Linked DNA regions of Homo sapiens. The protein of the gene in region 4 purifies or fractionates together with the protein of the main gene of each other region. This does not show direct contact. Each region holds a gene or a part of one and is shown on either strand. Other genes may lie near its edges.

Region 1 (4,707 bases), on a different chromosome or scaffold from region 4:
TCTCAGTAGTCTTCAGCCCCTTCAGTCACACCTTTCCCTACAATATGGATTCTAACTCCTGCTTTCAACCCCTCATTTTCTATTTTTTATTAATAATGTTCACCTTTATAGACTTTCTCTAAAGATAGCCTTGATATCTTTCTCTACATATTTTATATTCTGTATTAGAAAAAATTGTAGGAGGCAGCACTACGCTCACCAAAAGAACTGTTCCCTAAGTTCTGAATTGGGAATGTTTACAACATAGCAGGCATGCTTTGTGGCAAGTGCCTTGCTGAGAAGGTGGAAATTCCCTTTTCAATAACTTCAACATTTTACTTTTACTTTAAACTCCTCATAACTAGAGATAGAGTAGCAGAGACAGGACAGACACACAGGTATATTAAAATAATGAACAGCACTCATCTTACCTCCTGAGGATTTTCATTTGTGTTTCTGGAATACATAAAGCCTTTTCGGGGCTCACTCACAGATTCATTTGTTTTCCTACCAGCCAGCCGGCTCACCCGGCTCTTTGATGTGACACTGGGTGGAGTGGAGCTGCTTACATCTTTGGGGAAGAGTTTTCCAGGTCTTGGAGTCTCTATTGTCTCTAGAAAGTGAGTTCCTTCAGAGACAGTGTTGTACACAGTTGAGGTCACTTCACTAGCACTAACACTGTCCTTGACATTCCTTCTACCACTGGCATGTTCTGGTCGGTGAGCTCCTTTCCCCTGGCTGTTTCTAGGATCTTTACCTGAACTATCTGAGTCATGGTCTGGGCAAAGAGCTTTTCGCTTATTTTTACCAGAAGCAGCATGATTATGGTGAGAGTGATGATCATGGTCAGAGTGATGCTCGTGCTCTGAGTGATGCTCATGGTCTGAGTGACGCTCATGGTCTGAGTGATGCTCGTGGTCTGAGTGATGGTCGTGGTCATGGTGTATATGGATTCTTTTAATCTTATCTATGCCTATATTTTGAAGTAATTTTCTGAACCCTTCAACTGACAAAGAATTATTTTCTCCATAGCGGTAGAAAAGCTGTTGTAGATGATATTGCCGTGTGGAAATTGCCAAGTCAACATTAATGCCAGATTCCCAATTCGGACTAATTTTCTCAGTGGTCTGGGGGAAAGCAGCTGCTTTTAGTTCATGAAGGGGATTTGTGACAGAGAGGGCAAAGGTCAGGATCAAGATTACAGATAACTTCCTCGCCATTGCGCCTTCCTAGAAAAGACAGGAAAAAAAAATTCTTGACTCACTTCTAAAACAAATTGAATTAAGAAACCTCATACTGAAAATTAATGTGTAATCAAATAATCAAAGTTGCCAGAGCATCATGTGGTGTGACCAGTGTGACGCTAGGTACTGTGAAGATGGAAAGAACTAGAGTCCTAGGCTCTACCCTTGCATTCCTAAAACACATGAAACAACTGGAGAAGAGCTGAGTGCTAAGAGACTGCCATTAGCACTGTAAAAGCAATAGTAATTCAGAGACAAGGGAGATCCATGTGGCCACAGCCATCAACTGCTTACTGAAGTTGAGAATTTATTTGAACGATTATTTGAATCATTGAGGCCAATGATTCATAATTAAATCTAGGCTGGGTGTGGTGGCTCATGCCTATAATCCCAGCACTTTGGGAGGCTGAGGCAGGCAGATCACCTGAGGCCAGGAGTTTGTGACCAGCCTGGGCAACATTGTGAAACCCTGTCTCAAAAAAAAAAAAGAACGAAATGAAATCTAGCTACCTTGATCATCACCATCATTTCATAAAATAACCTTCAAACACCAAAAAATAGAAATAATAATCTCAGAATTCACATATTTAAAAAATTTTAAACTAATACACTCTCCTTACATACAAGCCCATTTAAGACCCCTTTCCCCAATCACAATCCTCAAAGGTGCTCAATTTTGCCAGTGTATCCCTCAGGATATTTTCTATGCATACTCAAATACATGTATACTTAATTTTTTTTTTAAAGTTTTTTTTTTTTTTTTCTAGAGACGAGGTCTCACTATGTTGTCCGGGTTGGTCTTGAACTCCTGGCCTCAAGAGATCCTCCACCTCCAATTCCCAAAGTGCTGGGATTACAGGCGTGACCACTACGCCCAGCCTCAAATAAGTGTATACTTTAAATACACATTGAATCTTTTTTCCGACTTGACAATGAATCAGACACATTATGTCCATACATAGAATTCTTAAAGTAAACTGAACTTCATGAAAAACTCACTGTAGCATCCTTGTGTTACTACAAACCAGTCAACATTTAATCACAGGCTGTTAATCATCCACAGTAGTGTTTGGAACCAAAGGCCTGTGCCCCAAAGAGGAGGAAGCAATTGAGTTGGAGCTTGAAAAGCAGAATTCAGTTAAGCAGAGCCAGAATTCAGTTAATTCAGATCCAGCAGGATGTCCAGCACCAACGGTGGAGGTGATGGTGGTCAAACTCACATCTCCAGCAAAAGACGCAGACGTCAAGTTTACAACTAAGCAAGAGCATGGGGCTATCCAGCTCTACCACGGTCAGCTGTTCTTTGGACAGGGCTCTCGCATTCATTACCTTATCTAAAATACCGGTAAAACCTATTTTGCAAGGCGAAGGAGGAAAACACATGAAGGAATGTATATTACAAGTACTCGTTAAACTCATGTGTTGCACAAGTGCGAGGTATCATACAGGGAACAGTGGGAAATGGAGGTACGGCGTAGAACGAGGCTCCTGAAAGAGGAATCTTTGGGGCTTGAAGTTTCGGGAATTCTTTTACTAGGTAAAAGATAAACATTTAGAAATCATTCCCAGGAGAGAGGCGAGGAGCGGGGTGGGAGGGGACTAGCACAGGGGACAGCTCCGAGCCTTTCTCCAGGGAGGATGCTGAGCGCGGTCGTGGACCCGTTGAAGGATCTCCTTTCCTGCAAGTTGGTGTGTGCTGGAGGAAAAAGGAAAGCAGAAGGGAAGGGCCTTAGAGAAAAAGGCGAGTACAGAAAACGGAAAAGAGGGCACAAAGCTCTCTTCTAAAAGCTTTTTATTTCTAAACACGTCAGTCCCTTCTTCGAATATGGGATGAAAAGTACGGATCTTTTCCTCAAAAAATCCTCCGTTGCACCCCGAAGCCCATCTGAGCACCTTAAGAAGTCCGGCTCTCTAGGGTGAGTGGGCGCCTGCGGCGGGCTCCCCCCAGCATCCTCTTTCTGTAGCCCCCCTGCCCGGTCCGCAGGATCCGGTTCTCCGCAGAACCACCCCTACCCCGCCACGCCTGTCTGGCCTGAGGAGCTCCCCTCCCAGCCGCCCTGCTCCCGGACCTGAAAGACTCACGTCTCCGCGGCCTCGTTGTCCCACGGCCCGGCCACGCGCGCAGGTTTGGTTCCACACGGGCGGTCCAGAGGGCTCGGAACGGGCCCACTGGTGTCTTCGAGAAATCTCTACCAGGCGCGAACACGCGGTGGTTTCATTGGGTTGGCTGCCCCTCGGTCCGGGGGCAGCGCCGCGCAGCCACCCGGCAGCCGCGCCCCTAGCCTTCGCGAAGCTGGAAGACAATCACTAATTACCGCCGCGCGCAGCGCCGCGGGGAACCACCGCCCCCTTCGCCCAGGACTGCAGGGCATGCGCAGTGCGACCCCGGAACCCGGCTCCGCAGACGGATCCGCTTTTCCGTGTGTTCGCCGACGCCGCGGGGGCGTGGCGCGGCCCTAGCGCATTGTAAGCAGTTGGGGGTCATTTCCTCGAGGCCCTACTCGCTAGCCAGCGCCCCCGGGGCCAGCCCTGGCTGCTGCTGGGAGCCGGGTCGTAAGGGGCAGCGAGATGTTTCTGACGCTGCCCCAGGCACATGAGCCCCGGGTCCTTCGGGAGGGTCCCGAGCCACTCGGGTCGGATTTCGCTCTTGAGACAAAGGCCTGGCTCGTTCGCGGAGCGGGGCCACGGTCCAAGAGCAGAGCTAGCAAAGCGGCGGCCTTGCACAGGGGTTCCAGCCTGCGGTGGGAACGGAGAGTCTCAGGGGGGCGGGGCTGCCTCCGTCTGGCCCTCGGCTGGCTGCGAAACGTGGACTGGGTGATGCCTCAGGAGAAACCACCCTAGTAGTTCCGCTCCGAGGGCGGAAGTGCGCGTCTCTTGTTTGTGCGGCTGACCAGTTGGCGACATGGTGGCACCCGTGCTGGAGACTTCTCACGTGTTTTGCTGCCCAAACCGGGTGCGGGGAGTCCTGAACTGGAGCTCTGGGCCCAGAGGACTTCTGGCCTTTGGCACGTCCTGCTCCGTGGTGCTCTATGACCCCCTGGTAAGAGAGGTCGCTGGACGGCCGACCCTTGTGCTTTTCGGGTTGAACCTGTGGACGTGCTCCGGGCGCGCTGTTAGTTGCCGCCCCAGACCTAGGAGGCGAGTCGGGTCGGCTCAGGGGAGCGGGGTTTGGGCTCGGAGTCTCCAGTGGACCTGCCGGACTCGCTCCTCACCCCTCACCCTTTGCCGTCTCACGCGTGGCGTCATCCTAGGGTCATTGCTGCCCATGAGCTGCTAGTAACCTGTTAGTCCCACGCAGAAACCCGAATGATAAGCATCTTACCTGAAGCCTTCCTTGGGAACTGTAGTACCGTTAATCAATTTGGGTTTTAAAACAATTGAAATTTATATGTAGATTAAAACCATCATCCCACAGGTGCAATCTCATTTCAGTATTTCCTTCAGTTTTGGTTAATGAACTTTTGTTGTATTGAATTTCAAGGAA
Region 2 (4,232 bases), on a different chromosome or scaffold from region 4:
GCGTGTCCCCCAGCTGTCCCACGATGCCAACGAGACGCTGCCCCTGCACCTCTACGTCAAGTCTTACGGCAAGAATATCGACAGCAAGCTCCATGGTGGGGGCCACGGGCGCAGTGGGGGGCGGGCAGGGGACGGGTGGGCACAAGGCGGTGGGTGGGGGGACAGGTGGGCGCAGTGGGGAGCAGGTCGGGGGCGGGCAGGCACGGGGTGACCACTGACGGCAGCTCTCCCCGCAGTGACCCTCTACAACTGCTCCTTTGGCCGCAGCGACTGCAGCCTGTGCCGGGCCGCTAACCCCGACTACAGGTGTGCGTGGTGCGGGGGCCAGAGCAGGTGCGTGTATGAGGCCCTGTGCAACACCACCTCCGAGTGCCCGCCGCCCGTCATCACCAGGGTGAGCCCCTCGAAGCCTGGCCTACACCTTCCCTCGTCCCTGGCATGAGCCCCTCCCTGCTCACCCGGCTCTGTGGTTTCAGATCCAGCCTGAGACGGGCCCCCTGGGTGGGGGCATCCGCATCACCATCCTGGGGTCCAATTTGGGCGTCCAAGCAGGGGACATCCAGAGGATCTCTGTGGCCGGCCGGAACTGCTCCTTTCAGCCGGAACGTTACTCCGTGTCCACCCGGTGAGTGGACGGCCCTGGTCTGGGCCCTGTCAGCTGGGTCAGTACCCACGCTGGGGTTCCGGGTGACTGGGTGGGTGGGGAGGCTGAGGGGGTGAGGGTGTCAGGGTGTGGGGTGGGTCGGGGAGTGCCTGGGCCACACTGCCTGTCGCCCGCCAGGATCGTGTGTGTGATCGAGGCTGCGGAGACGCCTTTCACGGGGGGTGTCGAGGTGGACGTCTTCGGGAAACTGGGCCGTTCGCCTCCCAATGTCCAGTTCACCTTCCAAGTAAGCACCCGGCCTCGGGGACCTGCCGAACCCGGGAGGACCGGGAGGAGGGGCTCTGCCCGCCGCCTCCCCACGACAGTTACCATCCAGCCCAGGACCGAGGGCGTCCTGTGCCCCGTCCTCACCCGAGTGCCCCTGCGGCTCTTTCAGCAGCCCAAGCCTCTCAGTGTGGAGCCGCAGCAGGGACCGCAGGCGGGCGGCACCACACTGACCATCCACGGCACCCACCTGGACACGGGCTCCCAGGAGGACGTGCGGGTGACCCTCAACGGCGTCCCGTGTAAAGTGTGGGTGTCACCGCCAGCTGCTGAGTCTGGTTGGCCCTGGCCCTGGGTATGGAGGGGGGCACTTACTGAGACCTGAGTGGCCCTGAGGGGATGGCGGGGCCAGCCTGGTCGGGCTGGGGCTGGTCCCGGGGGAGGGGTTGATGCAGACCAGCACCCTCCCTCCCCCAGGACGAAGTTTGGGGCGCAGCTCCAGTGTGTCACTGGCCCCCAGGCGACACGGGGCCAGATGCTTCTGGAGGTCTCCTACGGGGGGTCCCCCGTGCCCAACCCCGGCATCTTCTTCACCTACCGCGAAAACCCCGTACTGCGAGCCTTCGAGCCGCTACGAAGCTTTGCCAGGTGAGGCTGGTGTCCCCCCGCCCCCCTCTGCTCCCCACACCCAGCTGCCTCCTCAGTGCCCTTGGCTGACTGTGCTGAAAGGAATGTGGTGGGGCTGGTCTGTGCAGCGGGAGGCGGCCTCCGGAAAACCCCACTGCACTCCAGATCCACTTCCTCCTAGAAACCCAGATGGGCACACCAGAGGCTCCACGCTCACCAGGCCCCGTGTGCCCCCCGCCCACTTGCGGCACAGTCTCGTGCTCAGCACGTCCCACCGCGTTGCCCCTTTGCCCACCGAGACCCACACATGCACCTGGAAGCCCCGTGTGGTCAGGGCCAGGGTGGGCGGGGACGGGAGGGCGGAGGCTGCAGGGACCACCCCTGCCAGCCGAGCCCACGAAGGCACTGCCCTCCGCAGTGGTGGCCGCAGCATCAACGTCACGGGTCAGGGCTTCAGCCTGATCCAGAGGTTTGCCATGGTGGTCATCGCGGAGCCCCTGCAGTCCTGGCAGCCGCCGCGGGAGGCTGAATCCCTGCAGCCCATGACGGTCAGTCCTGGCGTGGGCTCAGCTCTGGCACCGGCCCATGGGATCGTGCCCAGGAAGGGCGGGGTCTGCGCCCGGGGGCTGACAGCTGGGACTTGCCTGCAGGTGGTGGGTACAGACTACGTGTTCCACAATGACACCAAGGTCGTCTTCCTGTCCCCGGCTGTGCCTGAGGAGCCAGAGGCCTACAACCTCACGGTGCTGATCGAGATGGACGGGCACCGTGCCCTGCTCAGAACAGAGGCCGGGGCCTTCGAGTACGTGCCTGACCCCACCTTTGAGAACTTCACAGGTGGCGTCAAGAAGCAGGTCAACAAGCTCATCCACGCCCGGGTGAGGACGGTGCAGCCCCGGGTGTCTGGGTCCTGCTCGGGTCTGGGCTGAGAGCTGGTCCACCTGTCCCTGGTTCCCTCCTCCTCACCCCGACCACTGCCGCCTCCCCAGGGCACCAATCTGAACAAGGCGATGACGCTGCAGGAGGCCGAGGCCTTCGTGGGTGCCGAGCGCTGCACCATGAAGACGCTGACGGAGACCGACCTGTACTGTGAGCCCCCGGAGGTGCAGCCCCCGCCCAAGCGGCGGCAGAAACGAGACACCACACACAACCTGCCCGAGTTCATTGTGCGTGAGCGGGGACTGGCGGGGGGTGCCCCCACGGGACCGCGCTGAACCCGGCCCCCCACACAGGTGAAGTTCGGCTCTCGCGAGTGGGTGCTGGGCCGCGTGGAGTACGACACACGGGTGAGCGACGTGCCGCTCAGCCTCATCTTGCCGCTGGTCATCGTGCCCATGGTGGTCGTCATCGCGGTGTCTGTCTACTGCTACTGGTGAGCCCGCCCCCCGGCTGTGCCAACACCCTGAGCCCTCGGCCCTCCCGCCTCGGCCCCTCTGGCCTCATCCGCCGCCCTGCACAGGCAGGCGTGTAGATCCACCTCCTCATCCGGGCAGCTGAGCGGCCAGCCCCGGCAGAACCTAGGAGGCCCGCTGTGCCTTGCAGGAGGAAGAGCCAGCAGGCCGAACGAGAGTATGAGAAGATCAAGTCCCAGCTGGAGGGCCTGGAGGAGAGCGTGCGGGACCGCTGCAAGAAGGAATTCACAGGTAGGGACCGCTTGGGGGCTGGTGCTGGGGCGCCTCCTGGGGCGGGGATGCTGTGTGTAGCGTGGGGGTCAGGGCCCCACGTGGCCAGGGACGTCTCACGCCAGCCTCCCCCCAGACCTGATGATCGAGATGGAGGACCAGACCAACGACGTGCACGAGGCCGGCATCCCCGTGCTGGACTACAAGACCTACACCGACCGCGTCTTCTTCCTGCCCTCCAAGGACGGCGACAAGGACGTGATGATCACCGGCAAGCTGGACATCCCTGAGCCGCGGCGGCCGGTGGTGGAGCAGGCCCTCTACCAGTTCTCCAACCTGCTGAACAGCAAGTCTTTCCTCATCAATGTGAGCCAGGCGTCGGGCGGGCGGGAGGGCACACAGGTGGCGCCGGGCAGGCTTTGACCGCCGGCCCCTACAGTTCATCCACACCCTGGAGAACCAGCGGGAGTTCTCGGCCCGCGCCAAGGTCTACTTCGCGTCCCTGCTGACGGTGGCGCTGCACGGGAAACTGGAGTACTACACGGACATCATGCACACGCTCTTCCTGGAGCTCCTGGAGCAGTACGTGGTGGCCAAGAACCCCAAGCTGATGCTGCGCAGGTGCACATGGGCGGGGCCACGAGCGGGGCCACGGGCGGGGCGGCCGCAGGGGCTCTGGGGCTGGTGGCGGGTGGCACAGCGGCCTGTTGGGCCCCCAGGAGCCGGCAGGTGCCAGCCAGCGCTGGTGGTGGGGGGCGGTCTAGGGGTGGTGTCCCCGGCCACAAACTCAAAGCCGGACTCTAGCCCTTCCTGTCCAGCGGTTTCAGCTGGTCACAGTGTCAGCCCTCTGCAGAACAGAAGGAAGGTGGCACACTTCCCACAAGGGCTGGAGCTGCCACCAGGTAGTCCTCGCTGCAGGCCACACCCAGGCTGGACAGGGGCGAGGCTGGCGCAAGGGTGGCCGGGTGCTTGGAGGAGTCAGTTGGGCCTCAGGAATACTACGGGGTCACTCGGTACAAGGCCTCCCTGCACCCCCAGGTCTGAGACTGTGGTGGAGAGGATGCTGTCCAACTGGATGTCCATCTGCCTGTACCAGTACCTCAAGGTGGGTTCCA
Region 3 (4,232 bases), on a different chromosome or scaffold from region 4:
CCTGGGCCCCAAAATAGACTGTCACCCAGACTCCGCGGTTTGGGGCCTCAGCATCCAGAGGCCAGGAGGCGGGTTTCCTGTCCCAGTGCCACCACTGACCCACAGTACCAGGCCCTGTCCTCAGCCAGGCTTTGGTATCCACAGTAGGTGGGGTGTTGGGCTGCACAGTGTCAGGATTCTATACAAGATACAAATATCTCCCCGCGCTCCCGTGGGGAGTCCCTGACCCCACCTCCCCCGAAGAATCCTCCCTGCTTTCTGTTTCCTCTCTCAGTTTCCATGTAAAACATGGTTTGAAAAAGGGTTTTCCCAAAATAAAAAGTGAAAACCGCAAGTAGTCAAATCCTTTCCCTTTACAGAGGTGGAAACGGAGGCCCAGATGGGGAAAGGGCCTTGTCCTCCATCTCTTACCCAGGCAGGGGCAGGGCCTGAGCTCTTACCCTGGCACCTGGGTAGGGAGCCAGGGCCAAAGAATTAAGAGTGTGGGTAGCAGAGTCAGACCTCGGTTTCAAATCTCGGCCCTGCTCCACAAGCTGTCCAGCCCTGGGGAAGTCACTTAACCTCTCTGTGCTTCAGTGTCCTTGTCTGTGAGCTGGGGATAGTGAGTCACTGACGATGACCACAAGAGCCTGGCACAGAGTAGGCATTGTACAAGTTAGCAGAATGATTTCCAGCAGCCTGCGAGGTCTTGGACCAGCTGCCTTGACTCTGACTTCCATTTTCCTGCCCCTCTGCTAGTACGACAGGACAGAAACCGCGATCAACAACCTCAACCCCGCCTTCTCCAAGAAGTTCGTGCTTGACTACCACTTCGAGGAGGTACAGAAGCTCAAGTTCGCGCTCTTTGACCAGGACAAGTCCAGTATGCGGCTGGACGAGCATGACTTCCTGGGCCAGTTCTCCTGCAGCCTGGGCACGGTGAGCTGGGCCCTCCTGGGTGGGAGCAGGGGCCCAAAGACCGGGCAACCCCTCAAAAAGTCTCTTCTCGTGCTGTCTTTCCCTAGCCCCATCTTCCTGGGTGGGTCCCAAAGTGCAGATGCAGAGTGGGGAACAGTCTTGGCGGGTTCAAGGCCGGGCTGAAGAGCTCCCATCTGGAGAGGCAGCCAAACAGAATGCCTCTCAGGATCTGGGGCCCCAGGTGGCCAGGGATTCCGATTGTTAGATATAATCAGGTGTGGTCTTGACCTCTGGGGGTAGGAGCATCTGACCAGCAACCAAGACACCCACAGTAGTCCCGCTTTGTGGCAGACTCACTGTGTGACCTTGAGAAACTTCCTTTCCCTCTCTGGGCCACACTTCCCCATCCATCTCAGTCCTTGGTAAGCTCCTGGAGGCCGGGAGCAAGCGGGGCTAGGCGCCCCTGACACAAGTCTCAATCATTCCTTATGGCTGTATGCCCTTGGATAAGCTCCCATCCCCCTCTGGGCCTCAGTTTCCCCACATTTTCCTTGGGGATTATGATGACTGCTCTGCCCAGCCTACATGGTTGATAAGGGAATGAAATGGAAAATGCTTTGAGGGGTCCTAGTGGAGACTGAAATGCCCGGGGCCTTCCAGGAGATGGTGACCATGCAGAAAGCAAGGGACTGCCATGGTTGTGATGTCTACTTTTTGCGTAAGAAGCAGGGTACAGTAGTCAGGGTCCCTACCCTGTGGTATAACTGAGAAGAGAGCTTAAGGGCTTGTGGACAGGGCAGGGAACTGACAAGGGATGGGGAAACCAGTCCAGGGCTTGGCCCCAGAGGAAAGCTGACCACCTTCACCTGGAAGGAAGGCAGGGTGAGGAAGTGGCATTGCCAGGGCCTGGTAAGACCTGTGGCCCATAGAGGGAGGCCTCTGGACTGCAACTGAGGCAGAAGACAGAGTAATGGAGAAGCTCCCATCAAACGGGGGCCCCCACCTCTCACGCCACCTGCTCTCCCGTCTCCTGCCCATCCCCCCAACTGGCTGAACCTCTGAAAGCCAGAGGGCAAAAGAGCCAGGTGGCACAGTCCCCAGGGCACAGAGCAGGTGTGTGGATCTGCGGAGAAGAACTAGCCCCACAGGAGCAGGACTAGATCATACTGATGTGTGCTCCCCGCTGCACAGGACGACGCTCGCACTGCACCCAGGAAGCACGAACCATGCTGGCCCCTGAGTGCAGTGGGCAGACACAGGTGGGAGGGTGACTTTGCAATGTGGCCCACTTTTCCTCTCTATGTTGTTTTGATTATTGCACCCTGTGTAAGTGTATTACCTATTGAAACCAATAAAAATAGAAAGAATTGGCCGGGCTCTATAGCTCATGCCTGTAATCCCAGCACTTTGGGAGGCCAAGGCGGGAAGATCGCTTGAGCCTGGAGTTCGAGACCAGCCTGAGCAACATAATGAGCCCTTGTCTCTACCAAAAAAAAAAAAAAAAAAAAAAAAAAGCCAGGCGTGGTGATGCATGCCTGTAGTCCCAGCTACCCAGGAGGCTGAGGTGGGAGGATCGCTTGAGCCCAGGAGGTTGAGGCTGCAGTGAGCCGTGATCGAGACCTGTCTCAAAAGGAAAATACATAGAATCTGAGCTTGACTCTGTCCATCAGAGATCATATCCTGAGGCAGGTGGGGTCTGTGGAATGCCTCTGGAGGAGGGAGTTAGGGGGCTAACCTCCCACAGTTGTCTCCAAAATGCCTTTTCCTAGGGGCAAACCAGGCAGTGGGAGTCCAACTGCAGCGGGAGACCTCAGGCGGGTCTCTTACCCTCTCTGGGCCTCAGGCTCCTCACTGCCCAGATTGGCTGCTGTCCACCTCCCAGGGTGATGATGATGCTCAGGCGGGTCACCAGCCAGCCAGGGCGGGGTGCAGCCCTGCCAAGAGGATTTTTCCGGTGCCGGTGGAGGATTTTTCCTTCCCGGGCTTCCCCCGCTTCCTCACTGAGCGCCCTTTCTCCTCTCTCCCCTAGATCGTCTCCAGCAAGAAGATCACTAGGCCTCTGCTGCTGCTGAATGACAAGCCTGCGGGGAAGGGCTTGATTACGGTACCAGTCCCCTCCCGGCTCTCCGCACCCCCTCCATCCCCACCCCACACCCTCCCCCATCAATGGGCCGCTTCCCTGGCAGATAATCACCAGCTTTGTTTGGAGTAAAAAGGCCCAACTTACAACTTAGCAACAGGTCTCTTAGCAACCGGCTGCTGGCTCCACAAATGATGCAGTGGGGGCTGACAAGCTGGGGAGGCCTCCAGAGCCCTGCCAGCAGCCCCCTCCCTGCACTGGCCCCTGCCTGCCCTCCCCTGGGGGTCGTTCAGAAGTGCCCTGCCCATCAGTGCCCTGCTTGTGGCTGCGACGCGCAATGATTCCTGCAATGCGCAACGACTCCCGCGATGCGCAGTAATTCCGCTGGAGATGCACAGGCCCTTCGCCCGGATGAGCTCCTTGGTCTTCAAAGACTCCCAGAAGCCAGGGCCACCCCTGAGACCCAGAGAGGAAGTTCCCTGGGGCAGCTGAGCTAGCGAGATCGTCCCCTGGTTGTCTGGCTGGCTTCTGAGCCCACGCGATGCCTGGGAAGCCGGCCAGGCTGGAGGGAGAAGCCATGCCTTTGTGTGTTCCCGTGTGTTACTCCCCTGTCCTGGAACCTCACATGGCTCCCCACTGCCTGACCAACCCTTCGGTTCAAGGCTGTGAAGGACCCCTCAGACCCTGCCTGGCTCTCCTGCCTTGGTGTTTTTTTAATCTCCTTCACTTAAATGCCCTGCGTTCAAAGCAAACTGAATTCTTAGCATATCCTGAACATACCTCAGGCTCTTACTCTGTTCCTGCCCCCACGGATCACCACCTCCCAAACAACCTCCCCCAACCTCTTGGTTCCTAACTGGCCCATCTAAATGCCTTCCCAGGCCAGGTGCATGGCTTGCACCTGTAGCACTACTCCTTGGAAGGCTAAGGCAGGAGGATCCCTTAAGGCCAGGAGTTTGAGGCTGCAGTGGGTTATGATCATGCTACTGCCCTCCAGCCTGGGCAAGAGAGTGAAACCCCATCTCTGAATGAATGAATGAATGAATGCCTTCACAAGGCAGCTTCCACCTAGAAGCCATCTCAGACAGACCCCACTCACCCGGGTATGCCATCACCCCAGCATTTCTGGCAGTTCCACTCTAGGCCTCCATCCCGTCCCCTGGGAAATGGGGGTGATAATAGGACCTACCCTATAGGGTTGTTGAGCAAGTCCCAGTGGGAGGACGGCAGGGGAGAACGGGCAACATGGCTGGCC
Region 4 (4,690 bases):
CGAGTAGCTGGGACTACAGGCACAAGCCAACATGCCCAGCTAATTTTTTTTTTTTTTTTTTTTTTTGTATTTTTAGTGGAGGCAAGGTTTCACCGTGTTAGCCAGGATGGTCTCGATCTCTGGATCTCATGATCTGCCCACCTCAGCCTCCTAAAGCGCTGGTATCACAGGCGTAAGCCACTGCGCCCGCCCTGAAATTTTAATATCGCACATGCACTGCATATCTCTTTAGTACTATACGTATATCTGGGCTTTACACAAAAAGAATATTTTTCTTCTCTTCACTTCTCCCATCCCCCCCAAAAAAACTAATTTCTGTCGTTTTGGGGACAATATTACTCTCACTGAGAGTGCATGTTCACATACAACCATGAATAGAGGTGGTTGCCATGGGCTATACCAGAAATCCCCATAATTAATAGGGCATTAGGTAGAATATTCATAGGGGTCTTGCCTCAGTCCTGGCAAGTCCTAGACCATGTATTACTATGGCGGCCCCACTGAACAAATCTTCAAAGATTTGGAAAAAAAGATCAAACCGTTTCCAATAACTAATTGGCATCTCTGAGCAAAGTTCACATGTATTTCCAGTAACATAAAACTATCCAACACCAGGCCGGGCACAGTGGCTCATGCCTGTAATCCCAGCACTTTGGGAGGTCGAGGCAGGCAGATCACGAGGTCGGGAGATGGAGACCATCCTGCTAACAAGGTGGAAACCCCGTCTCTACTAAACATACAAAAATTAGCCGGGCGTGGTGTTGGGCGCCTGAAGTCCCAGCTACTCGGGAGGCTGGGGCAGGAGAATGGCATGAACCCGGGAGGCAGAGTTTGCAGTGGGCCGAGATTGCGCCATTGCACTCCAGCCTGGGCAACAGAGCCAGACTCCATCAAAAAAAAATCCAACACCCAACGAGGTAAAATCACAATGTCTGGTATACAATAAAAAATTACCAAGTGTGTGAAGAGGCAGAAAAATAGGACCTATAATGAGGATAAAAATCAATCTAAAATGACCCAGCACATACCCAGATGTTAGAATTACTAATGAAAAATATTATGACTATATTCCGTATTTTCAAAGATTAGGATGTGACAAGAAAAGGCTTTAATTAAACTTCGAGAGATGACAATGTTAATGTATAAGATTAAAAAATACAATGGATGTAATTAATGGCAGATGAGAGTTTTCAGAAGAAAATATTAATAAACTTGAATATATATAGCAGTAGAAAGCATCCAAAATGAAACAGAGACAGAAAAAAAACAAAGAATAATCAGAGTATCGGTGATCTGTGGGACAACTTCAGTTGCCTAATCTGTGTGTATTTGGAGTTCTCAAAGGAGAAAAGAGAGTGGATGGATAGAAAAAAATATTTTTAAAAATTAATACATAAGCATTTTCCACATTTGATGCAAACTATAAACCCACAGACCCAGCTCAACATCCCCAAGTAGGGGTGCTATTAAGAAAACCACATCACAACACATCATAAGCAAATGGATCAAAACTCAGTGTGGTAAAGAGAAAAAGACAAGTCTTACACAGAGAAGAAAAACAAGGATGATACCAGACTTCTTTTTGGAAGCAATGCAAGGGGAAGGGCAGTGGAGCAACATCTTTCATGCTTCCAGTGAAACATCTTCCAACCAAAAGCAGAAAACTCTCTCTCCTAGGTTTCTATACCCAGCAAAACCGTCTTTCAAGAAAGGATGAAACAAAGATATTTTTCAGACATAGAAAAGTTAAAAGTAATATATTATCAGCAAACCTGGACTATGAGAACAGTGTAAAAGCCTTTCAGGAAGAAGGAAAATAAAGAATAATATCTTTGTGCAGATAGAAACATGGATCCACACAAAGAAATGAAGAGCACTGGCAATAGTAACACCATAAGTAAATATACAATACCTGCCCTTATTACTTAAATATCTTTTAAAGATAATTGGCTGTTTAGAAATAATAGCAGTGTCATGTGAGTTCTGCAGCATGAGTAAAAGTAAAATATATGACAACAATAACCTAGAGTAAATGGAAATATAGTTTAGTTTGTAAGGTTCTTAGACTGTGTGTAAAGTCGTATAATGCCTATTAAAAGTTGGCTATTACAAGTTATCTTTAAGTTAAAACATCTGTATGGTGTAATCCCTAAAGCAAATGCTAGAGTAACAAAAACAGTGATAATATTACAATATTACACAATAATATTACAATGCAGCGATGAAATAGAATAAATTTTTAAATGCTTGAAAGTAGACAAAAAAGATGAGAAAGAGGACAAAGAACAAATGGGACAAATAGAAAGCAAATAGCAAGATATAAAATAAAAATCTGATAAATTTGACCTTAAGATTAACAACTCTCCTTTTAAAATACATTGTTAAGAGAATAAGAGTCAAGCTACAGACTGGGAGAAAATATTTGCAACACTTTATTTGAATGCTGTAAATTTTTTTCAGAATATAGTTCATAAAGAACTCTTAACAACTCAATAATTAGCAAAAATAAAATGAAAATAATGAATATAAGAAAAAATGACGAAAAGTGCTAGGCCAGTGGACAAAAAGCACACAAAAATGTTCAATATCGTTTTGTCATTAAGGAAATGCAAATTAAAACCACAGTGAGTTATTCTTCCCACTAAAATGGTTATGATTAAAAATATTGTCAGTACCACGTGTTGTTGAGAATATGGAGCAATTATAATTCTCATACATTATTGTTGGAATGTAAAATGCTACAACCACTTAGGAAAAATTGTTTAACATTGTTTTATATAATTAAGCATACATGAAACCTATGACCCAACAATTCCAATCCTAGATTGAAAAGAAATGAAAACTTATGCCCATTATAAGACTTACACAAGAACGTTTATAGCATCTTTACTTATAATATCCCCAAACTGTAAACTGCCTAAAAGACCTTCAACAAGAAAATGGACAAACAATTTGTGTTGTATTAATAATGAAATACTCTTCAGCTATAAAATGGACAAAACTACTGGTAACTGCAACAAACATGGCTGAATCTAAAAAACCTTGTGTTGAATGAATAAATCTAGACACTATAGGGTACATTCTGAAGTCCTAGAACAAGCGAAACTAAGATATAGCAGTAGAAATTGTATCAGTAGTTACCTGGGTTGAGGTGGGATGGGAGTTGACTGCAGAGAAACACAAGGGAAGTTTCTGGAGTGATGGAAATGTTCTATGTCTTGATTGACTATGGTTACATTGGTGTGGACATTTGTCAAAACTCTGAATTTCATATTTGGAATTTGTATATTTTGTATATAAATTATACTTCAATAAATATGTACATGTATATATATGTGTATATATAATACATTTTGATATGTCATGATGTCTATCACTTCACAGCATATTATATTTCTATCATACCATATTTACATAATGGAAAAAGATGAAAAGGATGCTGTATTTTGGGGAAATCACAAGAGATTATCACCTTTATTTATTTTTTATACAAATACATATAAATCTTTCACAGTACAATACAAATGTCAAAATGTGGTATTTTCATTGCTCTATAAATTCTTATATGTTCTATGTATGTAATAAATGTTAAAAACAGTGTTTATATGTTGTATATGTTTATTTGTTCTATGTGTTTACATGTTCACTGTTCTATAAATTCTCATATATTGTATACTATACAATCAGGTGATGAGCTGCTCAGTAAATAAGTGCTGAACACTCTGCATCCCTCATCACGTCAAGCATTTCACATCCCTTTTCCTGTAGGCTTCCACAGTAGACATTTGACTTGCCAATTACATTTTCATCCATCATTCTGGAGAAGCCTGGAGAAACAGCTAGACACAGGGGACATACTCCTATACCTTGCTCATTGTGCCTTGGAATTATACATATTGAAATATTGTAAAGATTTGCTTCATTTGTATCAACATGGCTGTGAAATTAGATGTCAACTCTACCTCAGTTCCAACTTTTAGGAGGAATCCAGATAGTTTATTAGAAAATAGAAGTGCAAAAATGTTTGCTGTTTGATTCTCAGACCATAGCCTGAGATTAGCAATATTAAAAAAAAAAATAGCAGACAGAAGAGGCCCAAGTCTCTCCCAGCTCCTGGGATGCATGGAAGCAATGGGCTGTGATGTCCTACTGAGGTAAAAGAAGTAGTGTTTGTTATAGTCCCACGAGCAGAAGCAGTAAGAACTTGAGGTAGGGTGCACCTAAAACTGAGAACAAGGGAAAGCTGAAGTAGGAAGTGTCACCAGGGAGGGACTATGGGTCCTTACTATGCGAAGAGAGAAAAGGATTTAATTAGGTCCAACAGAATATAATGCCATTTCAAAAACATTTTCTGTTAGGACAGTTTCCAGAGACTCTAAGTGGTTGTTTTTTGTGTGATGATTTTTGAGCTTGGTAGAATTTTTCTAGTCTGACTGGATCAGTTCTAGAAAGCTGCTCAGATGAATATGCAATGAATGCTTTCTCTCTTCACATACTTCTCAGTTAGAAGGAGAATATTTCAGGCCAAAAGGATGCAAGACCGTAGTTATATATGCCACAATCAGATCAGTGATTTTAATTTGCCCACCCTAAAGAAATATGAGTATATACCACTCTAAAGAAATCTGTCTTTCTAACATGTCTATCACTTTCTTCAATGATTCCATAGCAAACAGTTAATGAAAAACAA
Region 5 (4,232 bases), on a different chromosome or scaffold from region 4:
CCAGAGTTCCTACAGTGAGCCCAATATGTAGCCAAGGTTGAAAGACCACTGCTCTATGGCATTATTGGCTATTTTGCCATGTCATTTAACTCACTGATTTTCAAGCCTGGGGCACATCTGAATCACCAGGGGATCTTTTAAAAAACACAGAAGCTGTGGTCTTACTGCTAGAGATTCTGCGTTAGTTCATCAGAGATAGGGCCCAGGCATCTATGTATTTTTAAAAGATCGAGAGGTAATGCAGAAGTACAACCCAGGGTGGAGAATCATGCATTGAAAACTTGCTAGAGGTCCCTTTACAGTAGGCTAGTGAACCAACATGATAGTGGGACTCAAAACTAATCTTACTTAGATCTGAGGCACATCTTGCAATGTCACAATTTTACATACCAGAAGAAGTGCGATGAATATTAATTGTTGAATTCATTTCAGGGCTTCCTTGGTCCAAATAAATTATAGCTTCAATGGGAAGAGGTCCTGAACATTCAGCTCCATTGAATGTGAAATACCAACGCTGACAGCATGCATTTCTGCATTTTAGCCGAAGTGAGCCACTGAACAAAACTCTTAGAGCACTATTTGAACGCATCTTTGTAAATGTACACTCCTGTCACAAACATAGAAATGGGATTTAATTAACATTTTCTATTTTAATTAAAAAGAGCTTTTGAGACTGGTGAATTTTACTTAACTATCCTTTTCCCCAAAATGTATTTAAAAAGTTTAACTTGGCCGGGTGTGGTGGCTCATACCTGTAATCCCAGCATTTTGGGAGGCCGAGGGGGGCAGATTACTTGAGGCCAGGGGTTAGAGACAAGCCTGGCCAACATGGCGAAACCCATCTCTACTAAAAATACAAAAAATTTGCTGGGTGTGGTGGCGCACGCCTGTAATCCCAGTTACTCGGGAGGCTGAGACGTGAGAATCGCTTGAACCCAAGAGGTGGAGGTTGCAGTAAGCCGAAATTGTGCCACTGCACTTTAGCCTGGGCAAAAAAGTGAGACTCTGTCTCAAAAAAATTAAAATAAACAAAAATAAAGCTTAACTTTTATAGAGGGAGGGAGATTTTCTGCAAGCTAGGTAAGAGATTTTGATATAGGAACTCTAAGAAAATCAAATTGCAGCTTTCTCAGAACTTTTCGCCCCATTGAGGGTATCTTTCAGTTTTATCAAAAAAGGCTAGCCTTCAGTACTTTTGATAAAATCAATTTATATATTTCCTCTTTTTTTTGCATTCAAAAAATATTTACTGAGCCCCAACTATGTGCTAAATGGTACAGATAGAGCAGTTAACAAACCAGAATCCCTACCTTCATGGAACTTACATTCTAGACTAGTTCTGTCCATTCGTATTGACTCTTGACGTGTTTCTTTTCGAGCAACAGCAAACAGTATGAGGGAGTAAAGGATAGGCAGGGTTTTTAGTCTTTATCTATATGATGCAATGATAAGGCCCAGGTTTCTTGTTTGCTTATTTTCTCATTGGTCTATGCAAATTTGTCTGTCTATTGGCTCATGGACCTATTATCCTTTACTCATAGAAGGTTACCATACCCATCCTGACCATTGCTAAAAGGAACTTGAAAACATATTAATAATTCAGAACCCACAAGGATAGCTTTTAGAAAGAACTCAGTAACTTTTGATGAACAACTATAAATAAACAACCAGTCTATCAATGTCAGATGTTTAAATAACTAGGGAACATTTTAACAAAATGTTTTCTAGAAACACACATGAACACAGAAAAGGTCATAGTCATCATAACTATGGAAGCTACATGGAAATTCTATCACAAAACAAGACAGTCTCAAACTCTTAATAGAGCAGAAAGAGCTGAGATAAGGAACAGGGATTATACACAGAGTGCATCTTAAAATCTTGGAGTTTTATGAAACAAATTTCTTGTAATTGCTTGATGGTAGCAGTAAAATCATGAAGTAATATGTTGTGAATATGGAACCATGTACAGAGTTCATCAACAGAGAAAAGAGGCTTATAAATAGCATCAACTTCTTCAACTCTCTTCCATCCCAGTGGACTTGCCAATTACTTTTGAAGCAAACACTAATCAAAGTGACTGAAACATTAGTCAAAATACATGACCGGACAGGCTATTTTGAGTAATTCTCTGCCACTCAGCCTTAATGTTGCAGAATAACTTAAAATAATCACTGTAGTACCTCACATCTAACCCATTTCACTTCTCTTAGGCTTAGCAGTTTTAAGCTGGGCATGCTTCCTAAATAAAGACAAACACCAATGGACTTCTGCTTCCAGATCAATGTGGTAATTTCTTGGAAATTTTTTCCCACCTTTATGTCTGAAGCCAGGACAGAATTTCTTAGACTAAATTTAAATTTACTTTAGGATAAGATTGGAAAGTTGCTTACTGTCCAACACAGACACATATGCTCTCTTTTGTTTGCATTTTTAAAAAGTATGTTATTTTAGATACTATGGTTAAAATGATAAGCATTTGTCTTAGAAATATCTCTATGAAATTCTGAAATGTTATAAACTTTTTCATTAGTTTTAAATTAAAAGTCACATGCTACCTACTTCTCTTTTTTAAGTCTTTTAGTTAAAAAAAAATAAAATGTCACCTAAAAATTAACACTAAAATATGAAAACCCTTAAATCTTGCTTCAATTTTAAAATAATTCAAACTTACCGCAATTTTCCCAAGATCTATGCCATAATTCAATGAACTCCATGAACACTGCTTGTAGTTGGGTGTCCAGGACTCCTCAAAGCTTTCCCTCAGACATTCCCCCTTTTCTCCTTTGAATCCATCCCGACCTGGGATCCCAGGTGTACCCGGAATGCCATTGGCCCCAGGGCTCCCGTCTCGACCAGGCACTCCTGCTGGCCCTTGTAAGCACATTCCATTATACTATAATGAGAAAGAAAAGGCAAAGAAAACTCTCACCACTTAAGAGTCAAAGACTCAGTATGATTAGAAATGCATTTATTTTGAGCCCTTGGAGTCAAGAATCCCTTCATACCACATGCCCGTGTTCTAGATGAGTTATTACAGAGAATTCATTTTCAAATTATTTCTAAAATATTGTGATTTCCTTCATATTTTTTAGTGCACAGACTTTACACGCACACACACACACATCAGAGGAGGACAAAATTATTTGCCTGCTCCCTTCTGCTCATTATAGGCATACACAATTTTAAATAGCTGTATTCCAAGGTGGGAATAATTTGATATTCTGCTTTTTTCTTCTAACTCTGTATCTTGCAAAGGGACCTGGATTTTTACAGTTTTATGCAAACATTGCACTATTTTTGGATAGTTTATTTCTACTTTTTTTATTATGAATATTATTGTAATGAAAATATCCATACAGCCTTTTTCTTCTTTTGAATTATTTCCTTAAGATAAATTCCTAGGGACATAATTATAAAATAAAATCTTAAGAGTCAATAATTATCTTGTACTGGCAATAGCTCCAACTTGGGTATGAAAATCCCTGCTTCTCCCTGTTTTTAAGTGGGGGAAGCAGTGCTTGGATAACATTTCTGGCCTCTCATCCCACCCCTCTTCCCCAAGGAGAAGCAGTAAGTGACCCAGTTTCAAGTGACCATTAGTTCTCAATAGGGGACCATCCACAATCTGTCAAACTGTCTGTAAGGACTATGATTTTCTGTTTGTTTGGAGAAGGACATCTTGTAGCATTTAAATGCATGGATTCTAGAGCCAGTTTCTTTGGATTTTGTCCCGGCTCCACCTTACATTAGCTCTGTGAGATAGGGCAAATTACTCAACATTTTGGTGCCTGTTTCCTTATCTGTAAAATGTGGATAATAATAAAGAGTCTTACTTTATAGGGTTTGTATGAGATTTAAGTGAATAATATATAAAATGTGCTTAGAACAATGCCTGGAACACAGTAAACACTGTATGTGTCAGCCATTATTATTCCTATGTTCCCCAGGACCAGTGCAAGGCAGCAACTCTGGGTAAGTGTGTCCACTGCCCTGGGTGGACCTTTCAGGATTTAGACCTGGGGAAGAGAGCATTAGCAAACCCACCAGCCTAGCACACATAAGCCATACATGCCAATGCTGTATGATCAGTGGTAAAGGTGATATCCTGTGCCCCACCTGTCTAATTCCTGTGTCTACACCTGAATTGGTTCAGCTAGGAACAAAGGTGCCGTTTATTAGACACTCCAAAACCCAATGCAATCCATTTAAATGTTTACTCTAACATTTCC
Region 6 (4,232 bases), on a different chromosome or scaffold from region 4:
CAGCCACCACCCTCCTAGGCCTGCATGCTGGCTTGCACTCATGGCTCCTGCACTGAGACCTGCAGCTCAGCTCCGGCCCAGGGGACCCATTCCTGCAGAGACCAGCCCTCTGTGCCCCAAACACCACCTCAGGGACTGCCATTAGCTGGGCTGCCTGGCAGCACTGGCCACACGTGGCTGCTTAACTTAAATGAAGTGAAGAGCCCAGACACTCAGCCACACCAGTGCCATTTCAAAGGCTCAGGAGCCACCACCCTGGACAGCACGGGTCTAGAATGTTCCACTGTGACAGAACATTCTCCAAGAACATGCTGACCTGGAGACACTGCGTCCCTGGAGGCCCCACCTCCCGCTGTGCCCAATCAGCATGGCCCAGGAGAGGGGCTTCGTGACACTTCATTTAAATCCTAGACTCCGCGAGCAGTGGGCGGAGCTGGGACAGGTTGGGGTGGCTGCATCCCAGGTTTGGGAAGCAACACATGGGATGGACAAGACCAAGTCGGGGGTGGCTGCTGGCCCGGGAGCCAGCAGAAGTGGCAGGGACAGTCCAGGAGAGAGGGGAGCTAAGACAGTGGAGAGTGTGCACAGAACTGGGGGGAGACCCCAGCAGGATGCACGGTGAGGAGGGGCACTTCCTGGTGAAGCAGGGTCCAGCCATACAGGCAAGGGCATCCACCTGACCCCAGGTGTGGGGGAGCAGTCCTACCCCAGAAGCCCTCGGCCATGCAGGTAGAGGGGCCTGGTGCACAGAGAGGGGCTCCCCTGTAGCAGGCAATGGTGGGGTTGTCTGCTGGGGTGGGGGCCACACACACAGCAGGGACCCGCTCCAGGGGCTAGGGTGTGGCTACAGTGTGCCAACCGGAGCAGGGGGCCACAGACCAGAGCTTGGGGGTCCTGAGTAAGGAGTGAGGCCAAGGGCTGGCCTGCCTGTGTGGCAGAGAGGAAGCCAACATTGCTGAGTTGGGCAGTCCATGACCAGGGAAGAAGCAGGTCACTGTCCCAGGGGTGGGCCAGGCCGGAGGAAAGCAAGGGACTGGCTGGCCAGGGAGGCAGATACTCTGGAGGGAGGCCACTCAGAGGCTGGGTGCCTCTTCATAACAAAACCCAGCCTCATAGAGCCCCAGCTCACATTGGTGTAGCTGTGCACGGTGCAGGCTGGGCAGGCCCTGCTCCGTACTCCAGCTGCTCCGTGAGACCGTGGCAAGTGGCTCGGCCTCTGCGCCTCAGTAAGCAGGCTCTGGCCTGGCCCCACACTGCAATGGGGAGGCTGTAAATTCCTCGCACTAAAGACTACCAGGAGTACCTGCAGTCCCTGTTGCCCTCATCACTGCAACCAGCCGGCTTGGGGCTGGTCCACTGTGCCCTGTTTCTCACGCTGCAGCCCACACTCATGTCCGCACAGCTGTGCACACCCAGAGCCACTCACACCTGCACACAGTTCCTGCAGCAGTGGGAGGGGCTCAGCGGCTGGAGCAGAGGGCGAGCCGTGGGTCAAGGGGCACAGGCAGATAGGGAAGGCCAGTTAGCACAGGACTGGCCCGCCATGCCCCTGCTGGGTTGTGTCCCCACGCCAGGGAGCCCCAAGTGGGGGCTCCGGATCAGAACAGGGCGAGGGCCCTGGGAACACATCTGGCCTGGCCCTGGGGGATGCCCCTCCTCCCCCTGCCCTGCATTACCAGTTGCTCTTCCAGGTGTGGCGCACGTCAGCATCGTGGATCTGGTGCTTGTCGGCCTGCTCATCCAGGAAGTCGAACATGTACTTGATGGCCAGCGGCAGGGCTGAGCCCCGGTGTGCCGTGCTGAAGATGGTCTCAAACAGGTCGTCCACAAACTTCTGCAGTGTGCCCTGCGGGGGGCAGGCAGGGACACTGAGCCCCAGGGCGCTGCCTGGCTGCCTACACCTCCTGGGTGACTAGGCAAGTGGCCATGGGAGCATGGGGGTGAGGCCCTTGCTCTGGGCTTGGCACTTTCTCTGAGCTCAGTTGGCCCAGCGTCCCCTGCCCCCATCTGCCAGCCAGGCCCACCTTGGTGGCCAGTAGCCGTGTCAAGTAGATCTCCGAGACCATCTTGCTGCCGCGGTCACCCTCACGCTGGTCCAGGTGGTCGTGGTTCTTCACCAGGTGCCACAGCTTGGTGCCGCTCTCCAGGTCGGGCGTGATCATGGGCGTGCGCGAGCGCAGGCTGTCGGGGCTGCTGGCCGTGCGCAGCATGCTCTCTGCAGCACCAGGCTGTCAGCGCCCGCGTTGGCTGGCACCCCGCACCCCCCGCCCGAGCCTGTTTCCCCATCTGAAAGCTGGGGATGGCACCCCCACCCATGTGGGATTTTGGGGCAGCCGATGACACCACAGAGGTGGCATAATTGTGTACGGACACACAGTCGCGAGGAGGCGCAGCCTCCAGAGCTGGAGGGTAAGGCCAAGAGTGCGAGTGACAGGCTTGACACCTGCCCCTGGGTCCTCCCGTCCGGCTGCTGCAGCGTGGGAGCCCGGGGGACGTCCTGCCCAGGCCAGGGACCCATGCGCTGCCCTCTCGCCCGCTGCCTGGCCCCTCACCGTATCTGCTGAGGGACTTGGTGAAGGTGGAGGAGTTGGAGATGTTGTAGGCGGACGTCTGCTTGGGCACCAGTGCCACCGAGGACCCGTCTGTCACCTGTGGGCAGAGGGCCAGGGACCCTGTGACCCACCAGGGTGCCCCTGCACCACCAGGCTCCCACTCCCCGGCTGGGGACCCCGGTGACACCCTAGTGCTGTGCCTGGAGGCAGCCACCTCACTCAGTCTGGAACTCTATATCAGGACAGCCCAGGGATGCTAGGCAATCCCACAAGCCCAGCTCGAGTCCTGGGACGGTCCACACACATAAGTGACCACCTCCCCTCCTCTCCCTGACAGATCCAGCTGCTGTCCAGCCCACATGCTGCAAACATTGGTGGCTGCGCTGTGGAAGCCCCAAGGGGAGGGAGGCCTGTGCTAGGGTCGGAGGGCCGGGAGCCACCTGGTAGTGAGCCAGTGTGTTCAGCCTCTTCCAATCGTTGTCAATCTTGGTGGTGACGTCCTCGTCCTGCAGGATGATGCGCGCCATGCGGCCCTGGCGCCACTCTGGGGGAGGAGGGAGCTGGAGGGTGGGGCCGCTGGGGCCCTCTTTCCCTCCTCCATCACAGCAGTGTAGTGGGACGGGGCCTGCCTGCAGCTCTCAGCACCAGCACAGGGCAGGGACATACCTCCGCCCCTGCTGCAGCACACTTAACCTGCCATAGTCCCCTGCAATGTGCCACAGCCCTCCCAATCTGCCACAGCAGCCCCAGCCTAAGGGGGTCTGCCCTGCCTTCCGCAAGCCTTAGGGCCCCAACTCCTCAGCCTGGCACCGAGGCTTCTGTGGGGACCCAGCCTCTCCAGTCACATCTGCAGCAGGACTCCGGGCCCCACCCCAAACCCGTCCCATCCCCTCTGGCCCTCAATGGCTCCACCTGCCCCTCTCATGAGCCTGAGTATCCCCCTCAGGGCTCCAAGAGCCCACTGCCTCCCAGAGTGCACTGGAACCCACCACCTCCCAGAGTCTCTGCCCAGAGCAGGGCAGCCACCCTCTATACCCAACCTGGGACTGGACAGCCCACTCGCCATTCCACTGCCCTCCAGACCAGCCTGGTGTGGAGGACTGGCCTGGCCTTCCCCGCCAAGCTCAGTACTAGGCCATGGCCCTGCCCCTCTGCTCCAGCACACACCCCGGGCAGCCGTGGCCCCGCCCGCTCACCCAGGTCCATGTCCGCGGCCTTGGGCCGCTGGGAGTAGGGCACGCCCTTGTAGGCAGCGTCCAGCAGCTTCTCCTTGGCCTGGGTGACCGTGTCACAGTCCAGCCCCTTCACCGGCACCTCAGGTGCATTCTCATTCTCAGGGTTCACACAGTTCAGGGTCTGCGGGCGGGGTGGAGCAAGGGGGCAGCGTCAGCCCCACAACTGGGGGGTGGGGGGCACCAGGGCACCCAGGACAGAGGGCAGCCACGCTCACCAGTGTCTTGTAGTCAATCTGCTGCCGGATGAGCTTGTCCTCACTCAGGGAGTAGCGTGCCTCACCCGTGATGGCGTCAATGGGGCCCTTCTCCATCTGCTGCTTGATGGCGCAGTACAGCATGAACAGCGGCTCCCCAGCGCACTCCTGCGGGGGTGGCGGCATGAGGCTGCAGCCAGGACCCCCGGGCCTACCCCCAACCTGCCCCTCCACCCGTCGAGTGCCAGCCA
Region 7 (4,232 bases), on a different chromosome or scaffold from region 4:
CATCTCCCACTTGCCCTGTCTCCCAGGCTCTGTACTCAGAGAAATGCCCAGTCTCAGCAAGACAGAGGAGGCATCTAACATCCACTGGGTCCTGTTCCCTACCGAGTACCAGGCCAGGGCCTTCATCTCTGTCTTCTCCTTCAATTCTCAAAATAATGCAGAAACAAATGGTGTTGGCCCATCTTAGGAGACAGGAAAAGCCAAAGTCCAAGACAACCAAGGTCACAGCCTGATGAACTGTGGAGATGAAACGTGCACACAGCATCTGACTCAAACGCCCTTGCTCCCAGGCTGCATGGACACACGCAGGCTTCTAGGGTGAAGACATACCAGAGGGTTATTTCAGGATCCTGAAGGGGAAGGAGGGATGGTTCTGTCACGTTTGCTAATATCTCTTTAAAAGAAAAACTGCTAAAAAGCCTGCCAGGCTGCTTAGAGCTTTTATTATGGCTACTAAGAGGAATGGAAACTCCATTCCACCACCCTGGAATTTTTTAGGCAAAGCCTGGGGACTGTCTGGGGGAAGGCGGGGCCCTCCTGCACATGGGGAACCAGGTGTGGCCCCCCCAGAGGGGTGTGGCACTGACTCATAGAGGAGCCAGCATTGGGTGTGTTTTCCTTTTGTGCCAGGCAAAATACTGGGTGCTTCACACACATCTCTTATTCCTCATAACAACTCTATGCCCAAGTCACACTAGCAGATATGGTATGATGGGACTTAGGCCCAGGCCTCCTGCTATGGAGCCCAAACTTTTTCTACTAACCAGACAGAACCATCTAGCTAACACCAACCTATCATCACTCTGCTGAGGAAAGCGTTGATCCCTGTTGCATGCTTGGCATGTTGAATCCTGATTTTTCCACCTACTTTACTCTGCAATGACACTGCTAAGTCCTGCACTCTCCAGGGCAACTCCAGTTTTAGACATGCTGGTCCCACGACGCCCATGGGTGTACTCACGCTTGTGTCACGGCAAGGTCCGCTCCAGGAAGCTTCCCTTGTTAACCCACGTCTGTGCAACCCTGTGTGGCAGTACAATTCCTCCTCCCATAGGACGGAGTATCTGCACGTTCCTGGTTTGCTTCAGATGCACCTTGTGCTTTCTTTCCCAGCTGATCCCTTAGTTCCTTTCAAATCCACCCATCCCAATTGGAAGACCATTCTTAAGGAGGGAGCCCTGGAAACCACAGAATACATGATGTGTAGAAGAAACCACAGCCCTGCCTAAAACTGTTTTACTTACTACCTTTACAGGTGGCATGGTGTTAGATAAACTTTGAGATACAATTTTGAAGCATTTAATCAGAACGCAATACCAGAGTGGGAACTGCCAACTTGTCATTTAACTGGAATCAGTGTAAACTCCTGTGTTTAGATTCAGAAAATTAAGGGCTCCAACACAACACACTAAAAAAGTACCTCTCCTTCTGAACCACAGTTCTAAAAAATAAAATAAATTAAAAGCCTCAAACTTTTGGTAGTGAAGTTAAAAACCAGCTCAAGAGTATACTGTGACTGTTTAACAGAACGAAAAGGTGGGCTGGGCGCAGTGGCTCACACCTGTAATCCCAGCACATTGGGAGGCTGAGGTGGGTGGATCACCTGAGGTCAGGACTTCGAGACCAGCCTGGCCAACATGGGGAAACCCCATATCTATTTAAAAAAAAAAAAATTTGCCAGGCGTGGTGGTGGGTGCTTGTAATCCCAGCCAGTCAGGAGGCTGAGACAGGAGAATCACTTGAACCCAGGAGGCACAGGTTGCAGTGAGCTGAGATTGTGCCACTGCACTCCAGCCTAGGCAACAGAGCGAGACTTCATCTCAAAAAAAAAAAGAAACAAGAAAGAAAGAGAGAGAGAGAGGAAGGGAGAAGGGAGGAGAAGGAGGAGGAGAAGGAGAAGAAGAAGAAGAAAATAAAAAAAGGTGAATGTATTGTCAGGGTGCATCCATGTAAGCAGAATGTCCAAATCACAGGAAACGCATGCTTCACTGAACCCTGGACCAAGCCCTCATCATCCAGCATGACAAGTAACGCACTTGATTATGTGAAGCATGCTTCACAAATGATAGCACCCTCGGACAAGGAAGAGACTTGGGGTGTCTAGCCTAGATCAGAAGAGAGAACAGAGAAACATAAAGCAGCTTTTAGATGTTTGACAGGTTGTCACGTGGAAGGGGGACTCTAGAATGTTAACCATTGGGAGGAAGTTATTGAGAAACAAGTTTCTCTTCAGTATAAAGAGGAATTCTGGGCCGGGCACAGTGGCTCACGTCTATAATCCCAGTACTTTGGGAGGCTGTGGATGGATCACTTGAGATCACGAGTTCAAGACCAGCCTGGCCAACATGGTGAAACCCCGTCTCTACTAAAAATACAAAAATTAGCCGAGTGTGGTGGCGGGCGCCTATAATCCCAGCTACTCGGGAGTCTGAGGCAGGAGAATTGCTTGAACCTGGGAGGCAGAGGTTGCAGTGAGTCGAGATCCTGCCATTGCACTCCAGCCTGGGCAACAGAGTGAGACTCCATCTCAGAAAAAAAAAAAAGAGGAATTCTGGCAGGAAAAATAAGAGCCCCCAGAGATGTCCACATCCTAATCCCTGGAACCTGTGACTGTGTGGCCTTACGTGGTGAAAGGGACTGTGCAGATGTGAGTAAGCTGAGGACCTGGGGATGGGGAGACTTTCCAGGGTTCGACTGAGGGTCCCTTGTAACCACAAGGGTCTGTAGGAGAGGGAGAAGGATTTGACAACAGAAGCAGAGGTCAGAGTCAGAGAGATCTGAGGATGTTACTCTGCTGGTTTTGAAAATGGAAGAAGGAGCTGCAAGCCAAAGAATACAGGTGGCCTCTAGGAACTGGAAAAGGCCGGGACACAGATTCTCCCCTGGAGCTTCTAGGAGGTATGCAGCCCTGCTGGCACCTTGATTCTAGCCAAATAAGATCCATTTCAGACTTCTGGCCTCCAGAACTGTAATGGATTAAATGTGTATTATTTTAAGCCAACAGGTTTGTGGTGAGTTATGGGAGCAGCAATAAGATATGAGTTCATTGGCTAAGGGACAGATGGCCACTGCCAGCCCCAGTGAGTTCCCCGTCCCAGGAGGCAATCAAGAAGAGGCTGAACATCTCTACCTGTCAGGAATGCTGTGCAGGCCAGTCCTGCATGAATTGGGAAGTAAGGTGGATGACCCACGCAGGCCCCTCGAATTCTGAGAGTCCACAATTTATGGCAATACCTTCTGCTTTCGTATTCTGCACACAGATCCCCACCTCCTGCCTACGGGTAGCAAGGCTTGCCCACTGTCTTCTCCAAGGAGAGCCATGGTAGTGACACTTTCTACCACCACTGAGTAAAAGGCAGGCTTTGGGAGGGTGTCCTAACGGCATCTTGGCCTGGCTCAGAGCTAAAGTGCTTGCTGGGGACACTTACCTGAGCAGAGGACTCCCTTGTTCCTGGCACAGGAGAAGTTGTCGCACTCACAGAAAGGCCCATAGATCTTGCCAAACTCGCTCTCGAAGCAGGAGCACTGGTTGCAGCTGCAGTCCCCACGCCCGCTGCACAGTGGCTTGCCCTCTGCCTCCCGGCACAGGTTCTGGTACACGCTCTGGTTCTCCCCATCCTGGCACTCGCACCTGGTGCCCAGGTAGCCGGGGCTGCACTCACACAGGCCGCAGACATAGGTCCCGCTCCCGTTGCACCTGGCGCTGTTGGGTTCCAGCCCCACGCTGCAGCCGCACGTGCAGTTGTAGGTGACCCCCACCTCCAGGCTGTCCCGGAATCCCACCGGCCGCAGGGCAAACACATGCTCCGTGTGTCTGCTGGGACAGCTTCGGGCCTCCAATGATACTTCAAAAGATGCCTGGGCAGAAGGAAGAGAAGGGATATCATGGCTGCGGCAAGCCAGGGTCTCCCATTCACCCAGGGGCAGGGCCCTTGATGAAGAGCAGCTGCGAACTCCAGCCCTCTCCACGCACTCAGGTAGAACCACCAAGATGGCCGGAGTAGGAAGAGACCTCAGAACCAGCAAGCTCCCATGCTTCATGGAGAAGAGAATGCACAGGTGAGCTCACATTTGACAGGTGAATTCTTTAACATTCATTATCTCTTTGCATCCCCATGACCCTGAGGAAATGGGCCCCTGCGGAAAGCTATAGGGCTTCCTTGAGTTCACACAGTTCTTATTCTCCCTTTCTTTTCTCTTCTGTCCTATCCTCTTCCCAGCCCCGCTGCAGA

Evidence for each region.
Region 1: the proteins of CNTNAP3 (region 4) and SLC39A6 purify together in Homo sapiens (affinity purification with mass spectrometry; one large-scale study listed by BioGRID and IntAct). This does not show direct contact.
Region 2: the proteins of CNTNAP3 (region 4) and PLXNB2 purify together in Homo sapiens (affinity purification with mass spectrometry; one large-scale study listed by BioGRID and IntAct). This does not show direct contact.
Region 3: the proteins of CNTNAP3 (region 4) and CPNE2 purify together in Homo sapiens (affinity purification with mass spectrometry; one large-scale study listed by BioGRID and IntAct). This does not show direct contact.
Region 5: the proteins of CNTNAP3 (region 4) and CTHRC1 purify together in Homo sapiens (affinity purification with mass spectrometry; one large-scale study listed by BioGRID and IntAct). This does not show direct contact.
Region 6: the proteins of CNTNAP3 (region 4) and PLXNA1 purify together in Homo sapiens (affinity purification with mass spectrometry; one large-scale study listed by BioGRID and IntAct). This does not show direct contact.
Region 7: the proteins of CNTNAP3 (region 4) and ITGB5 purify together in Homo sapiens (affinity purification with mass spectrometry; one large-scale study listed by BioGRID and IntAct). This does not show direct contact.

The regions. Positions count from the first base shown.
Region 1 is NC_000018.10:36,125,809-36,130,515, forward strand, and holds the start of SLC39A6 (zinc transporter ZIP6 isoform 1 precursor), read right to left. Parts: upstream 3,533-4,707; 5' UTR 3,306-3,532; intron 1,209-3,305; 5' UTR 1,200-1,208; coding exon 411-1,199; intron 1-410. Other genes in the region: ELP2 (elongator complex protein 2), read left to right, coding at 4,126-4,263. UniProt on the Homo sapiens protein: Zinc-influx transporter which plays a role in zinc homeostasis and in the induction of epithelial-to-mesenchymal transition (EMT).
Region 2 is NC_000022.11:50,279,995-50,284,226, reverse strand, and holds part of PLXNB2 (plexin-B2 isoform 3 precursor), read left to right. Parts: intron 1-13; coding exon 14-95; intron 96-236; coding exon 237-394; intron 395-476; coding exon 477-625; intron 626-781; coding exon 782-890; intron 891-1,040; coding exon 1,041-1,177; coding exon of another isoform or gene 1,178-1,223; intron 1,224-1,345; coding exon 1,346-1,516; intron 1,517-1,676; coding exon of another isoform or gene 1,677-1,913; coding exon 1,914-2,043; intron 2,044-2,145; coding exon 2,146-2,373; intron 2,374-2,484; coding exon 2,485-2,661; intron 2,662-2,727; coding exon 2,728-2,867; intron 2,868-3,037; coding exon 3,038-3,138; intron 3,139-3,253; coding exon 3,254-3,483; intron 3,484-3,556; coding exon 3,557-3,738; intron 3,739-4,155; coding exon 4,156-4,222; intron 4,223-4,232.
Region 3 is NC_000016.10:57,112,550-57,116,781, forward strand, and holds part of CPNE2 (copine-2), read left to right. Parts: intron 1-738; coding exon 739-918; intron 919-2,926; coding exon 2,927-3,001; intron 3,002-4,232.
Region 4 is NC_000009.12:39,063,620-39,068,309, reverse strand, and holds the end of CNTNAP3 (contactin-associated protein-like 3 isoform 1 precursor), read left to right. Parts: 3' UTR 1-3,600; downstream 3,601-4,690.
Region 5 is NC_000008.11:103,374,402-103,378,633, reverse strand, and holds part of CTHRC1 (collagen triple helix repeat-containing protein 1 isoform 1 precursor), read right to left. Parts: intron 2,897-4,232; coding exon 2,675-2,896; intron 608-2,674; coding exon 391-607; intron 1-390. UniProt on the Homo sapiens protein: May act as a negative regulator of collagen matrix deposition.
Region 6 is NC_000003.12:127,027,857-127,032,088, reverse strand, and holds part of PLXNA1 (plexin-A1 precursor), read right to left. Parts: intron 4,150-4,232; coding exon 4,003-4,149; intron 3,909-4,002; coding exon 3,749-3,908; intron 3,097-3,748; coding exon 2,993-3,096; intron 2,650-2,992; coding exon 2,553-2,649; intron 2,216-2,552; coding exon 2,025-2,215; intron 1,847-2,024; coding exon 1,677-1,846; intron 1-1,676. UniProt on the Homo sapiens protein: Coreceptor for SEMA3A, SEMA3C, SEMA3F and SEMA6D. Necessary for signaling by class 3 semaphorins and subsequent remodeling of the cytoskeleton. Plays a role in axon guidance, invasive growth and cell migration.
Region 7 is NC_000003.12:124,792,960-124,797,191, forward strand, and holds part of ITGB5 (integrin beta-5 isoform a precursor), read right to left. Parts: intron 3,859-4,232; coding exon 3,429-3,858; intron 3,417-3,428; exon of another isoform or gene 962-3,416; intron 314-961; exon of another isoform or gene 1-313.